2 linked regions of the Homo sapiens genome follow. The protein of the gene in region 2 interacts with the protein of the main gene of each other region in a pairwise test. Each region holds a gene or a part of one and is shown on either strand. Other genes may lie near its edges.

What was found.
Region 1: the proteins of SH3GLB1 (region 2) and HCCS interact in binary tests that used the Homo sapiens proteins (3 or more experiments, as listed by UniProt).

Annotation. Positions count from the first base shown.
Region 1 is NC_000023.11:11,106,792-11,114,714, forward strand, and holds the start of HCCS (holocytochrome c-type synthase), read left to right. Parts: upstream 1-4,540; 5' UTR 4,541-4,727; intron 4,728-5,227; 5' UTR 5,228-5,269; coding exon 5,270-5,369; intron 5,370-7,923. UniProt on the Homo sapiens protein: Lyase that catalyzes the covalent linking of the heme group to the cytochrome C apoprotein to produce the mature functional cytochrome.
Region 2 is NC_000001.11:86,699,231-86,707,575, forward strand, and holds the start of SH3GLB1 (endophilin-B1), read left to right. Parts: upstream 1-5,345; 5' UTR 5,346-5,669; coding exon 5,670-5,741; intron 5,742-8,345. UniProt on the Homo sapiens protein: May be required for normal outer mitochondrial membrane dynamics. Required for coatomer-mediated retrograde transport in certain cells. May recruit other proteins to membranes with high curvature. May promote membrane fusion.

The sequences.
Region 1 (7,923 bases), on a different chromosome or scaffold from region 2:
TTTGATGTAGACACGGTCCCTCTGAGTACACATGTGATGAATGCTGGCAGACTCCATGGAACACAGACCTATTGGTGGGGGGTCTACTGGCTATGTCTTAGGAACTTACCTTCATTCATTTAGGCCTTAGCAAAGATCACAGTCTATGAAGTTCATGGGCAGTGCTGGCACAGAACCAAGTGAAGGTCTCCAGGCATAACTAGAAAGTGGTGAAGAGCAAAGTTGAGAAAAACAAGCTATCTCTATTGTCAGATCAAATAATTCTTCTTTTTAAAAACCCTTCCATGGCTTCACATTTCAATTAAAAGAAAATGTCACTTCCTCCTCATGGCCTATGGCATGATCCAGCCCCAACATCACCTCCTACTATTCTGCCCCCAACTCATTCTGTGTGGGCCACACTGGTCTTTCCCTGTTCTTTCTGATCTCAGAACATTTTACCATGGCATTCTCATTGTCTGGACCACTCTTTGCATTGATCTTCACATGGCTGGGTCCTTCTCAACATTCAGGTCTCAGCTAAAACGTCACCCTTCTCAGAGAGGTCTTTGCTGACAACCATATCTGAGAAGGTATCCTGAGCTCTCAATCTGTATCGTGCACACTGATCATCTGGGGATCATGTTACAAGACAGACTTTGACTCAGTGGTTCTGGGGAGGGACTTGAAATTCTGCATTTCTAACAAGCTCCCGAGGAATACAAATTTTCTGCTCCACAGATCATCTACCCACAGGGGTGGGTAGACCCCCATGCCTCAATCTTTGTCACACTACCTGTGTCATTTAATTGGTGGCTTTTATCAGGATCTTAAATTATTTATTTATCTGTTTGTGTTGGATTGTTTGTTGTCCAATCTATTCATTTACTAGAATGTAAATTCCCTGAGAGCAAGGAGTCTGTCTAGCACTTTTAAATTCTCAGCACTTCCCACAGTACCTGACACATCATAGGTGCTCCATAAATATTGCTGAATGAGTGAAACATCACTCATTCAAGATTCATTGACTCTGTGATCCCTTCCAGTGTCTGCTTCTGACTGCTTCAGTGAGCACTCAATTATACAACAGAAACTACACTGTAATGATAGGGCAGTGCTACCCAAGTGCCAGTCCAGAAACTGCTAGTTATTGGCCAACACTGAATTAAGAATCTTGTACTATAATATAAATCTGCTATGCCACTAAGCACAATTTTATCTGAGATGAGACATTTTTCATAGTAAGACTTTCTGGATGAGGCAAGCAATGCTTTGCCTTGCCTTGTGGTGAAAGCTCCTCATCTCATATTAGAAGGGTAACAGTGTGTGAACTGGTCCCCACTGGCAAGACACATTTTGAGTTGTGCTGATATAGCGGATATAAAGCCAAATAAGATCTATTTTTTAACTTCAGAAAATCCATACATAGGTAAGAGAATTACACATTCAAATACATAACTGCAAATCTTTTGTCAAGTGCTATAATACGGAATTAAGTGGAAGAACTCAGGAATTGTAGAAAAAAACAAATAATTGGTCTTTTGTGCTCCCCCTTAGTCACACCTTTCCTGACACCTGCTCTCATTATAACCACAAACCCTCCCACCATACCCCTTCCTCCTGATCACATACCACTCATCTGGGCATGTTCTTCCCCTTGGGCCCTGAAACACTGAAGTTACAGGACCAGGCTTGGGTCTTCTGAGAAATTGTGAAAGGGAACTGAGAATTGTGGTAGAGAACAGAAAATGATAGGAGAGATAGGGAATTGTGGGAGAAGGGAGAATTGCGGGAGAGAATAAAGTATCATGAGAGAACAGAGAATTGTGAGAGACAATGTGGAATTGGGAGACAGACTAGGCAGCTGTGAAAGAGAACAGAATATTGTGTAATAAGGGAGAAGTGCAAGAGTGGAGAATTGTGAGACAGAGCAAAGAATTGTAGGAGATACGAGGAATTATGGGAAAGACAAGGAATTATGGGAAAGAACAGAGACTTGTAGGTGAGACAGGGAATTGTGGGAGATAATAAAGAAAGGGGGAAGACATCAGGAATTGTAGGAAAAAACAGAGAATTGTGGGAGTGACACAAAATTGTGGACACACGGGGAATTGTGGGAGAGAAGGGAGAATTATGAAAGAGAAGAGATTATTGTGGGAGAGATGGGAAATTGTGTAAGAGAATAGAGTATTGTGAGAGAACAGAATGATGAGGGAGACTAAGGAGTTAGGGGAGAGACTACAGAATTGCAAATGAGGATGGAGAATTTTAAGAGAATGGAGGACTGTGAGTGAAAGTGAAGAATTATCAGAGAGAAGAAAGAATTAGGAGAGAGATGTGGAATTATGAGAAAGACAGGAAATTGTAGCATATGACACAGAATTGTGGGAGAGAGCAGAATTGTGGGAGAGACATAGATTTGTGGAGAGGACAGCACAAAGAATTGTGGGAGAGACACAGGATTGTGGGAGAGAACAAAAAATTGTGGAAGAGACACAAAATTGTGGGAGAAAAGGGACACTTGTGGGATAGAAAATTGTGAACGAGAATATTGTGAGAAAACAGAATTATGAGAGAGAATGGGAGTTAGGGGAGAGACTGGGGAATTGTGAACAATCATGGAGTATTTTGAGGGAATGGAGAATTGTAAGAGTGGAGAATTCTGCGAAAGAACAAAGAATTGTGGGGGAGATGGGGAATTATAGGAAAGATAGGAAATTGTAGCATAGAATACAGAATTATGGTTGAGATAAGGAATTGTGGGAGAGAACAGAGAATTGTGAGAGGAAACCAAAAATTGTGGGGAGAAACATGGAATTATGGGAGACACAGGGAATTGTGGGAGAACAGAGAACTCAGGGAGAGACAGGAAATTGGGGGAGAGAACAGAGAGTTCTGGGAGATACAGGGAACCATGGGAGAGAATACAGTGTTGTGGGAGAGACGGAATAATTATGAGAATGAAGGGAGAATTGTGGGAGAAAGGAAATCATGAAAAAGAATATTGTGAAAGAACAGAATTATGAGAGATAATGGGGAATTATGGGAGAGACTGGGGAATAAGAACAGAGTATTGTGAATGAACAGAACATTGTGGAAATGAATAATTTTGAGGAATTGTGACAGACAGAGTCATAGGGAATGATGGAAAAGACAGAGAACTGTGGGAGGAATGGAACTGTGGGAAACAGAATTTTGAGAGATACAAGAATTTGTAGGAAAGAATAAAGGCTTGCTGGGAAACCCAGCAAATTTTGGGAAAAACAACAGAATTACGGGCAAGACAGGGAATTGTGGGACAGAAAAGTGAATTGTGGGAGACACAAGGAATCATGGGAGAAACAAGAGAATTGTGAGCAAGACAAGGAATTGTGGGACAGAAAAATGAATTGTGGGAAGGAATAGAATTTTGGGAGTGACATGGGATTGTGGGAGAAATAAGGAATTGTGGGAGAGACAGAAGATTGTGGAAAGAACTGAGAATTGTGGGAGACAGAACTGTGGGTAACAAAACAGAATTGCGGGAGTGAAAAGGAATTGTGGGAGGGACAAAAGAATTGTGGGTAAAGAGAGAAGTTGAGCTGTGATAGTTGAAATGGAATCCTTGGGCTATCCTGTAGGCAGTTCTGATGCTGGGATGGCCCTTCTGAGTTGTCCCCTTTGGGGCTAGGGGCCTGGACTTATGTGCCCTTGCAGAGACCCTCATAGGATGCAGATCGTCCCCAAGGAGGGGAAGTGATTTTGTGTGAGGCAATTCTCTTAGGCAGAGGACAATTCCTGGAGACTCAGCTGAAAGCTGTGAGCCCCCAACACTTTCTGCACCAGGGGACATCTGGACGTATTTCACAGAGCCACTATAGTTATATAGAAAGATATATGTTTCTTTATTAACACTTTAAGTAACAAGATCAAATTACCTTAATTTCAAAGTAGTGGATGGATGATATTTTGAGACAGGCACAACAACCATATGTGACATAATTTATCTGTAATGTGTATTAGTGCCACATACAGCTAATAGTACTAGGATTTATTGCCTACATCCCTGATGGAAGAAAATGCTAAATTTCTGTTGGAGGTAAATGAAAATACAGACATTCAAAATCACATACCCAGTTAAGAAGAATTTAGCAGCCAGAACACTGTCTTGTTCACTTTTGGATCTCCACCACCGAAGTTATGGGCACCTACTAACGTTTCTTGAATCATTGCTACAATTAAAACCGATAAGATTTAAAAAAAAAACAAATTTAAAAACTCCTCCAAAGCACTCCTTCTGCCGCATAAAGCATACATAGTAGAGCTCTTCACTCTAGGGAAGCCTCTGGAGCAGACAACCTTCCCTGCCACCGCCACATTTTGAAAAAGGCTCCTGGCCTGGAGGGGCGGGCCCAGAAAGCGGCCCCCGCAGCAGTTACAGGCCGGGGCGAGGAGGGGACGGAACCCGCTCTCCGTGATTGACGGAAAATATTACTCTTCAGCCCGCCTCCCGCGTGCCCGGAAGTCCCGCCTTCTAAAAAGGAAGTAGGGGTGCGTGAGAACGCCGGCGGTGACCGCAGCCACAGCGGTGACCGAGTGAGAGGAAGGCGGCGGCGGCGGCGGCGGCGGCGTGAAGTCACTGCTGCTCTGGGTTCGGGTTGGCGACTGAAGGCGGTACCGGCCTCCCGGAACAGCCCGGGGGAGGGCTTAGGTGCAGAAGGGCAGGCTGGCCGCGGCCGGTTTGGTCTGGGGACCACGGGCTGGAGCAGGTGGGCAAGCGCCGGGACGGTGTGGGGAAGACACTTGGCAGCTTCTCGACCTCTGGTGTCCCTTCGTTTCTTCGAATTCCTATTCATGCGCCGCACCCTTCTCGGACCCCCAGCCCCTCGCTAAGGCTCTGGGGATGGGGGTCAAGTCTAGGCTCAATGGACCTCCCCTCCTCCACCCGGGTCACCACTCCTCGGAAATCCTCGCCCCACTCCCGCCTCAGGCCTGTACCTCCTGGCTGTGACGTGGTTTCTCAGCGACTGCCTCACCTCAGTCCCAAAATCCTCACTGCCTTAGATACATACGTGCCCCCAGAGGTTGGCCTGGGTTTCACAGTATTTCCCTAAGGGGGCAATATATTAAAGCTGTCCTTCGAAGTTAGTACCCTGCCTGGTAGATGCCCATGGGATGACAAAGAGGAGGAACAAGGGTTGACCAGATTAGGACTAACGAGAGAATAGTCTGAGTCCAGAGACATTAATCTGTCTCTTTGTTTTGGCAGGTGGAAATTTAAAATTGTTTACAGTCAACACTGTTTCCAGCCATGGGTTTGTCTCCATCTGCTCCTGCTGTTGCAGTTCAGGCCTCAAATGCTTCAGCGTCCCCACCTTCAGGATGCCCGATGCATGAAGGGAAAATGAAAGGTAATCGGCCCTTTGCCTAGAAAATAAAAACAAAAGATAATTCACGGCTGGGTGCGGTGGTTCACGCCTGTGACAGCACTTTGGGAGGCCGAGGTGGGTGGATTGCTTGAGCTCAGGACTTCGAGACCAGCCTGGGCAACATGGCAAAAACCTCCCTCTACAAAAAAATACAAACATTAGCCAGACGTGCTGGTGGGTGCCCGTAGTACCAGCGACTTTGGAGGTTGAGGTGGGTAGGATCGCCTGGGAGGCCAAGGTTGCAGTGAGCCAAGATTGTGCCACTGCACTCCAGCCTGGGTGACAGAGTGAGACTGTGTCTTAAAAAAAGTCTGGAAAGCCTCTAAAGGAAGAGGCAGTGTAGTATGCTGCTGAGGCTGGTAGGCATGGGAGTCAGGCACCCTGGGTCTGGTCGTTATTTTGCGTCTTATTGAGGTTTGTGACTCTAAACAAGTTAACTCTGTTAGCCTCAGTCTGTCATCTGTAAGATGAAGATATAATAATGTTTCACAGGCCTGTCATGATGATTGAGGTAGTACATGAGAACGTAGTGAGTACTCTAAACCAGCCCCAACTTCCCAAAGTTTACTTGTGCCTACATCAGTGGTTCTTAACTGGAGGGGGGCAATCCCCCCTTCCCACAGGGGACATTTGCCAATATCTGGAGGCATTTTTGGTTGTCACAACTGAGAGGAAAGTGAATAGAGGGCAGGAGTGCTCCTAAACATCCTACAATGTACAGAACAGCCCCCCAACAAAGAATCAGCTGGCCCCAAATATCAAGAGGGCCAAGGTTGAGAAACCTTAGTCTAGATCTAGCTGTCTTAATAAATAACTTTTGCTCGTATAGCCATTTCAGTATTTTCGTATATAAAAGTAAGCCATCACTTAACGGGCTTGCTGTCCATTCTTTAGATAAGAAAATGAAAATGGAAAAGCTGTCTTTCATTTTTAATTCATTCATGTCTACTTTAGATTTTTTATATTAAAGTGTGGCTTGAATCAGTAAGTCGTGAAGGGCAGAAGCAACATGGTGTGCTTACTGAGTACTAATGTTTGCGCTGTTATTCATTTCTTCAGTCAGCCAGCCTATTCTGAGAGGTCACTGCCCATTCTGTACCAAGCATTGCTGGATTTTGTTTGTTTCTGCACGAGAGAATAACATCATACAAAATGGAGCTTTGCCTGATAGAGCTTACATTCTCATCTTCATAAGCTATGTGGTCTTACGACTTCATAAGCTAAGTTTTCTCCCTATTTTATAGTCAAGGAAACTAAGACTTGGAGTAACTGATGCTCCAAGTCACATAGTAAGTGGCAAAGCCAGCAAAAGTTCTGTGACCTTGGACAAGGACAGGCAGTGTTCTTCTGGGGTTTCTTTGTACAGGAAGAATTGAGACAGATCAGCCAAAGCAGGTGTGCTCCTGTTCTGAGTGTCCTCAGGGAGATTCTAGAACCCTTACTTTGGTTTTATTTCATTTGCTGTATATCTTGGAGAGCTGCCAGACTTACTACATTAATAAAGAATGTGGGTGTCTATAGGAGATCGAAGGGGCTACTGGTTATATGACGTGAAAAGTTGAAATGTTATTTTCTTTGTAACACCCAGCTGGGATCTATGACTTGGAAAGGATTGGTGCTTTCAGTGGTAGAGAGGAAAGGCATAGCAAGTCTTCCTTCACCCCTAAAGTGGGCAGTGGCACAGGGCACCAGGAAATGAGGGCTTGGGAGGAGAAGTGCAGGGAAGGAAGTGAAAGCAAACTCAGCTTTTTCATGTGTATTGCTGTAGTTGCTGCTGCTGCTGCCTGAGGCCAAGATTCCATTACATGAGCAGCTGTCTTCTGTGTCTCAGCTCTCCAAGTGCCTGCTCATTCTCTGAACCAGTTTCCCAGTCCCTCACTAATTGGGATCAGCATCCTGGGTCTTTGGGCATAGCCCTTGCTATTGCTCATCTCATTAGGCTCAGACCTTCCCTCGTAATGGGCATCTTGATCCTGTATGGGTTGTGGAATATTTTCTTTATTGTCTGTCTTTTCCTGTTAAACTCTTGCCATTGACTGATGGGAATAGGCCATAGGCCACGTGGTTTTCCTGTGCCTTGTTTCAGTCTTGAGACAAAGCAGAGTGGCATTCAGATTTTTTTGCAGTAGCCTCTGTGATGTCTCCTCTGTTCATTTTCTCCTCCCCTTCCTTGTACCTGAGATAATGCATCAGTAATGAAAGCCTGGATTGCAACTGTGTCCTGATTGGATCTGGGCTTCTCTGGAACTAGTGAATGGAAAGTCAAGGAGACCCTGTGAAATGTGGCTGGTCCCCTCTTAGGTTCCTCTAACAGCTCCCCAGCTGCTCATCCAGCCAGGTTACTCAAACCATGGCACAGATAACACATGCTCTTGCAACTGCCAAGGTTTTTTGGCTTATTTTTGCTGGGGGTGTGACACAATTAGAGAATGTATACTCATTTTTCTTTCAAAGGAAATGTAAATTTTAGAACCTTCTCATCTTTAGGATTTTGGAATGTTAGCTAGTTCAGTTCTTGATAGATTTAAACAGAAGA
Region 2 (8,345 bases):
AAAATAAAGGAAAAAGTTTTATTTTAATACCTTTAAACAGCACTTTCCTTTTGCTCTTGAACAAAGGGCTCCATATTTTCGTTTTGCATTGGTCCCTGCGAATTATGTAAGTGGCCCTGTTTATCAGTCTAAAAACTGAAAGGAAGTTTCAGTGAGCATGGGAGACTTTCAATTCTTGCCTTACAGCAGCATGGCAGACATTGATAGTTGCTTACCCTATAACTATTCTCTTTCTGCCTTGCTAACAGAAACCCCATTTTTGTTCAGGATGACAGTAAGTGCTGTTTAAGAAATAAAGAAAGATTTAAAAATAAAATACTAATTTCTATTATGATTGTATACTTTCAACTGAATTTATATGTATCTATATATAGATATATATAGATATATAGATACATATATATGTATTTTTGATATAGATTTTTTTAAAGATATAAAAAATTGAAATACTTATTTTTCAACAGGGCACATTTCATTTATCAGTCTCTAATGCATTTACGGAGAACTAAACGACCCAGTTCTAGCTAATGAGATGTAAACCAAAGTTTACTACGTGGGGTTTATGAAAAAGCTGTTTTCTTGATTTAAGGAGTAAGAAGTAGACTCAGTTGGCATGTACTTTTGCCTTTACTTTTCATCCTTTTTCTGCCTTAAAAACATATTTAATGCCTAGAATTACAGGAGCCATCTTGAGACATTAGGATGAAAGCTACATGATAAGAATAGAAAAACAAAAACACAGAAGACTGCCTACCTCTGAACTTCTTAGAGGGTGAGAAAATAAATCAGTATTTGGGTAAGTCACTACAGCTAGGTTTCTGTTACTTGAGCTGAACATAAGCAGTCCTTAATCAATACAGACTAGATAACATGAAAACTCTTCTACTACAAATACTTAGAAATGCTGGGTAAAATGCAGCAAAATAAATTAATTAATTAATAATAATGCATACTTGAGCTTACAAAAAAAAAGACAGGGAAATATTCAGGTGGCAAAAATAAAAAAAGAAACTGGACACCAGGGTCTTGAATACAGAATATGACCCTGTCTGGAGAGGAGAAAGGATTGAATGAGGATGGTGCTTGAATGTTTAAATCCATGAGGTGATAAATGGATTTTAAAAATGTGATATATGTATACAATGGAAAACTATTCAGCCTCTAAAAAGAAGGAAATCCTGTCATTTGTGACAACATAGATGAACCTTAAAGACATTATGTTAAGTGAAATAAGCCAGGCCCAGAAAGATGAATATTGCATGATCTCACTTAAATATGGAATCTAAAAAAGTTGAACTCAATAGAAGCAAAGAGTGGAATGGTGGTTAGCAAGGGCTGGGAGAGAGTGAGGGAGCTGGATGACGCTGGTCAAAGGATATACAATTTCAGTTACATAGGAGGAATAAGTTCAAGAGATCTATTGTACAACATAGTGACTATAGTTAACAACATGTTGTATTCTTCAAAATCACTAAGAACAGACTTTAAGTGTTCTCACCATAAAAATAAGTATGTGACGTAATACATATGTTAAGTCACTCAATTTAGCCATTCCAAGATGTATACATATTACAAATCAGGTTGTATACAATACAGTATATACAATTATCATTTGTCAATTTTCATTAATTTTTTTTTTAAGATGGAGTTTCGCTCTTGTTGCCCAAGCTGGAATGCAATGGCGTGATCTCAGCTCACTGCAACCTCCTCGGTTTAAGTGATTCTCCTGCCTCAGCCTCCCGAGTACCTGGGATTACAAGCACCCACCACCACACCCGGCTAATTTTTGTATTTTTAGTAGAGACAGGGTTTCACCATGTTGGCCAGGCTGGTCTTGAACTCCTGACCTCAAGTTATCCACCCACCTCAGCCTCCCAAAGTGCTGGGATTATAGGCATGAGCCACCGCGCCTGGCCTTTATAATTTTTAAAAATACACGGTAACTTGTGATAAGACCTTGGGCCCTTGGTGCAAACAGAAATCAGTTAACTGTGAGCACACCCTGTCCCCCAACTTCATGACCTCACACACACACATAAGTTAAAAACCCATGAAATTCTGTACCCTCAATGAAAGGGTAGACTAGATAGAAGCTTTTCTTCTGGCATAGTAAGAAGCTTTTCTGTCAAGGCACAAGCTCTGAAAGAGAAAAAAACAAGGAAGATCTCTCTCCCTTGAGAATTTGAATCATAGTTTGTACTCCCACAAATCTGGGTTCAAATTTATAATATCTGAATGATCTTAGAACTTCTAAGCCAAGAAAGAAATTCATGTAAAAATTGCTCACTAGCCAGTGATAACCTTAGGGGTCTCTGACAGAAGAAACATTTTTTTCTGTATCACTAAAAATGAGCCATAAAAAAAAAAGCTAAAAGGAATCAATGTACAAAGCAAAAGGAATCAATCCACAAACAAAAAGGTCATCAAATACACAAATAGAAGTATTAGACCCCTAAATGCAAAAGGATTTATCTATATGATATCATTTATGCAGTTTAAAAATATAACATAGTAGTACCATTCATAGATACATATAAATTCAGTGAAAGTACAAAAACATAACAGATATTAATCATACCAATTTAAAAATAGTGGCTAACTCTGGGGAAGGAATAGTGTCAAGAAAAGCCTGAATAATTGATCCAGACTGAAGGAGAATTGAGCAACAAGCTAACTGGATGCAGCACATGATCTTTCTTGGCTGGGACGTTTTTGCTGTAAAGACATTGGAATAATTGGCAAAGTTTGAGTGGGGTTTCTAGGCAAAGGGTACACAGAAGTTTTTGTACTATTCTTGCAACAGTTTTCTTAGTTTGTAAATTGTTTCAAGTTAAAAAATTTGTTTTTAAAAAGAGGATGAAAATGAAAAATAGGAAACAGTTTCAGAGAAGAAATTGCCAGGATAGACCAATTGGTGGTGGGAAATAAGAGGAAATAATCAAAGGGGACTCAGATTTCTGGCTTAGGTGATTTGGTGTGTATGATTCAATTTATCAATGTAGGAAACCCAAGAAAAGAAGAATTTTCAGGAAAAGCAAACTATAACAGACTTGCCACTGGAAATATTGAATCTATGGATAAATAGTTGGAAATTTAGGCTGGGGGTGATGGTGTCACAAAAGAGCTTAGCACTGTAAACATCTTGATTTGATTACTTTTTTCACTTACTAAATCATTTGGGAATTCACTATGTTGCCTGTGTAAACCATAAAATATATAAAAATAAATAGGAAACGGACACTGCCCTTAAGGGACTGATATCTGGTAAGAGAAGTAGAATCAGTCTGTAGGCAAAGGGTAGAGACTGATGGAGCAAGTTCTAGAGGGTGACAAATTAGTTCTCAACCTTGGTCACACATTAAGAACACCTAGAGGAACTCCTAAAACATCCCAATGCCCAGTCCACACTCTGGGACTGGATCCAGGCATCAGTGGTTGCTTAAACTCTCCAGGTGATGCTGATGTGCAGCCAAGATTAAGGGAGCAGTGGCTCTACTCAGAACACCTGAGACACCTATTCCTTTGAAACATTTGGCAATGATGCAGGAAAGAGTGTGGAGAGAACAGGAGGTGGAAATAAGGAAATTTGGTTGAAGAGGCTTCTGCCAAACAGAGTGATGATTTATATTTTCTCTGTAAAGAAAGCGAATCAGCTGGGTGCGGTGGCTCACACCTGTCATCCCAGCACTTTGGGAGGCTGTGGCAGGCGGATCACTTGAGGCCAGGAGTTCGAGACCAGCCTGGCCCACATGGTGAAACTCTGTCTCTACTAAAGATATAAAAAATTAGCCGGGCGTGGTGATGCATGCTTGTAATCCCAGCTACTTGGAAGGCTGAGGCAGGAGAATCCTTGAACCCAGGAGGCAGAGGTTGCAGTGAGCTGAGATCACACCATTGCACTCCAGCCTGGGTGACACAGCAAAACTCTGTCTCAAAAAAAAAAGTGTCAAAGGCTAAGAATAAGGATATATGAAAATAAGGTAAGTCTTTTATGGAGAATGGGGAAACAGGATTACAGCTACAGAGGGTGCAAAAGAAAGAAGTAACATTGTTGTTTTCCCAAGACTGGGAAGATTGAAACACTTGAGGATGAGGATTCAGGGACACCACTGTGTCCACCATTAAAGAATTTCCCCTTTAATGGTGGACACGGTGGTGTGATCCTTTTGTAGAGACGAGCATAGGTTATGGCAAATATACCTACTTTAAAAACAGTGCTCTGGGAAGAGAGTAAGTGCTTTTCCACATAAAGATCTAAAATAGACAATAAATGAGAAATAGGGTTTTTTATTATATATTCATTTTTCCATATTTCTGGAAAATGAAACAGACATGGAGTATTTCAAAGCTGGGAGAGATCATTATATTGGAGTTACCTTAGAAAGAGGGGGCTGTTTCTGCCACCACAACAAAGAATGAAACAACACAAATATTTACGTTTTCTTCTTGTCCTCATAATGCTTTTACTGCACTCGTCTTTCAACCTTTAACATCTACTGCATCTGTGACTGTTGTTTCAGTAAAACACGGAAGCTTGAATGTAAGCTCATTTCATTGCCTGCTGCACAACCACACAAAACAGCATTTTCTTATTCTTGAAATATGATAGCAACGTCTCCTTCCATGCTTGTACCTGTTTTAATTCCTTTCAAGCAGAGGCTGTATCGTGAAAGATGCTTAAGAAGTTACTTGGAACGACAGGATTTGGAACGGATGTCACATCATATTCTCATTTGTTATTAAAATTAGTCACGCTTAATTGTTAAGGACTATCCTGTGTCGCTCGCCATCTTTGTGTCCTCCACCTGGCACTTTGCTTTCACACAGTAGGCACATAGCGTTGAGGTCCCGGAAGGTTGTCAAGTAACCGGCCAGGAGCTTGAGGGCAGGACATTGTCTCCGACACTTGATTCAGTGCCTGGCACACAGGAGGTATTCAATTATGCTGAATGAATGAGCAACCGGCTCGGTGGGGGACAGTAAACCCAACCCTATTCCGCGAACGTTTGCTGAGCGGCATCCAGGCCTCAGGGACCAAGTGTGTCGCGCGGTGCCATACCGTGACCGGGACCTGTTATTTCTAATGTCCAGATATTGTAATTCTATGCTGTAACTCCTATATTTCCTCTTAAAACAAAAAGAGAAATGTGGGTCGTGTTCGCTCTGGGTTCTCGTTAAGTGCAAGCATACAGAGGCGCCGAGACCCCGCGGCTCGCCCTCGCCGCTTCCTCCACAGGAGCCGGGCGGAGCTCCCGGCGCGCCCCGGGGCTGCGCCGCCGCAATCCTCAAGGGGTCGCTGTTCCCGCGATAACCTCGAGAAAGGCTCCGCCCCGCGGCCCGCGCTTGTTTTTCCCTTGGGACCCGGGTCCACACGGCGGGGTCGCCCGTCCATCTCCGGCTCGCCCGCGGGGCCCATCGTCGACGTTAGCGGCCGTTCTCCGAGCCGACTGACCCATCCTTGGCGCTGCCGCCGCGCGCTTGTTCTCCTCCCTCGCCCCGCCTTCATCCTCCCCGTTCACGGAAACGACAGCTGCGGCTGCGGGGCTGGCGCCGCCTCCCTCCACCTACCACGTCTGCCCTCGCCGCTCTAGCCCTGCGCCCCAGCCCGGCCGCGGCACCTCCGCCTCGCCGCCGCTAGGTCGGCCGGCTCCGCCCGGCTGCCGCCTAGGATGAATATCATGGACTTCAACGTGAAGAAGCTGGCGGCCGACGCAGGCACCTTCCTCAGTCGCGCCGTGCAGGTACCCTGGTGCTGGGGGGAAAAGGGGTGGCGGCGCCCGGGAAGGTTGAGGGAGGGGACCGCAGCTCGACGCGGCGCCCCCGGGCCTCGCCGACCACCCAGCGGGCCTGCTGCAGCCAGAGGCCTGGGAGATGGGCGCGGCCTGGTCCCCTCCCCGGGCCCGGCGGCGGATTTCTGCCCCGCTCCTGCCCAACCGCCGCTCCCTGGGAAGCGAGGCGGGGTGGGGACGGGGCCGGGAGCTTCCTCCCACCCCTGGGGAACACTAAGGCTGCACTGTCCGCCTTTCTGATACCACGACGTCAGTGCTCCTGTGGCCTCCACCCCGGGGCTGGCGGAGGCTTGCGAGTCCTTTGCGGTAACCGAGACACAGGCCATTCTTGCACTACCCCCCACCCTTTCCTTTCGTCTCTCACCCTCCCCTCGGAGTCCAAGAAGGGAGTTTCCTTTTCCTGTCCTTCAACCCAGAGAGCTGCCAACACAGTTCCCTCCGGCCCTCTTTCTCCCTGAAAGGACTGTCCTGGGCTTGGCAGCCCGCGGGGGAAATGGAGATCGCCAGTTGGCGTTGAGACTTTGCCAAGACCACAAGAAACCTAGGGTTGGGGGGTTTTCACTCTTTTTCAAAATGGGAAGCACCAGCTGTAGATCAAGGAGAGATGCGGGGATATTGTTATGGCTGTAGTCACAGTAGTATGTTTTAAATATACTTTAAGGGGAAAAGTTGACTACCTCTCGATATTCTACAATCAAGGAAGTGTCAGTACTAAGGAACTTGGGCCGTTTCCCACAGTCATCACCCATGTTATGCCAACTCAGTAAATCTGTGAACAGATGTAAATTTCACAACATGAATTATAAACAATCTGGTGTTTACGGTCACGGTAGCAACAACATTCTCTTTTGTAAAAAGAAAACAAAAATAATTTTCTAATATGCATACCAAATTGGTGCTGAAATGTAAATCTGTTCTGTGGCTTTACTACTTTCCTTGCCTTTGCCCCAATTTTGTTGGCACAGTTGATCCTACATTGCACTATCCCTGGCAAAAGAGTAGTAGAGCTAGAGCAAGGTAATAGCTGCCTATATTATGAAAAACCTGTCAAGCACTTTGTAATGCATTTGACATATTATCTCCAGTCTTTTCCATAACTTTGCCAGATAGATGTTATTAACCCCTTTTATATATGTGAGGAAGCAGCCTTACTGAGGTTAAGAAACTTGCACAACTAGTAAATAACCAGGTGCTGTCTGACCTAGTACTCCCAGCTGCTTTTTCTTCCGGGATAAGCATTCCAGATTTAAGATAGCTAGAATAATAGAATGCTGTGGCCTAGAGAGACCTTAAAAATCATCTGGTTCAATCTGAGCATTTCCATATCAACAAGCAAGTAACACTTTAGAGATGGTAAATTCCTTCTAGCTTTTGATTTCTAAGTTCTAAAATCTGCATGGTGAGTAATAAGCTAGCTGCCTTAACCCTTTTCTTCCCTTCCTTCCCTAAAATATGATATATTGTAGACGTTGAGCCTTTATAGTTAAAATAATGTTTTGATTTAAATTCACTAGCTTCTAATAGTTCAAAGACAAGGTGCAAGAAGAATGAGTGATTGAGGGTGTGAAATGAATTTTGATGTGTGAGACACTTGTACACTTTTAACATTGACTGCAATAGAGGACTAGAGCCCTTGGTATTTTTGTTTGTCCTAGTGCTCATTACCTATAATTCTAGATGCTTATGAGGATTTGACACTGTATAATGCTACTCTTTTAAATACAGTTAAATATGTTTCAGACGTATAACTCACACCCCTTAAAGAGGACACATTTACTAGAATTTAGTCTGATTTAAATTGTGGATAGACTCAATTTAAAAAATTAAATCTAGCAAAGCTCTCAAAATGTGTACTTCCCAAAGAATTTTAATTCCTTGTTTCAAATTCTTTAGGAAAAAGTTTTAAATTTTATGCTAATCTGTTAGCCATCAAATAATTTTCTTTTCAGTTTTAAATATTTAAGTGTCTACTGCATGTCTGATGTCTGCTTGTGGCTACTGTGGACACTGGTGATACAGCAGTGAATAAAATCAGCAAAGTGTCTGCCCTCCTGAAGCTTACATTGTAGCGGAAGATAAGCTTGTAAATACATCAGGTGGTGATAAAAATCATGGCCAGAAGAATAGAATAACGCAGAGATGGTGGTTGTTAATATCTTTATTAGTATTTTCTAACATTAGTATCGTGTATAGATAGGATGGTCAGGGCAAGTCTTTCTAATAGGATGAAATTCAAGAGACCTCAAGGAAGTGACAGACCTAGTTTTTTTTGGAATAAAAGTATTTCAGGCAGCAGGAAGAAGTACAAAGACTGAAGTTTCAGGGGCATTAAGGAGACCAATGAAGGAGCTGTGGCCATAATACACGTAAAAGGCGATTGTAACTTAGATTACAGTGGTAGCAGTGAAGGTTCCAAATTATCCAGTATTGGCTGTTGGATTGGCTGTGAGGTATGAGAGAAAGATGAGTTAAGGATGACTCCAAGGTTTTGGCTTGAGCCGTTTATTAAGGGAAAAATTTTAGGAGAAACAGACTTCTTTAATGTGTCTGTAATTG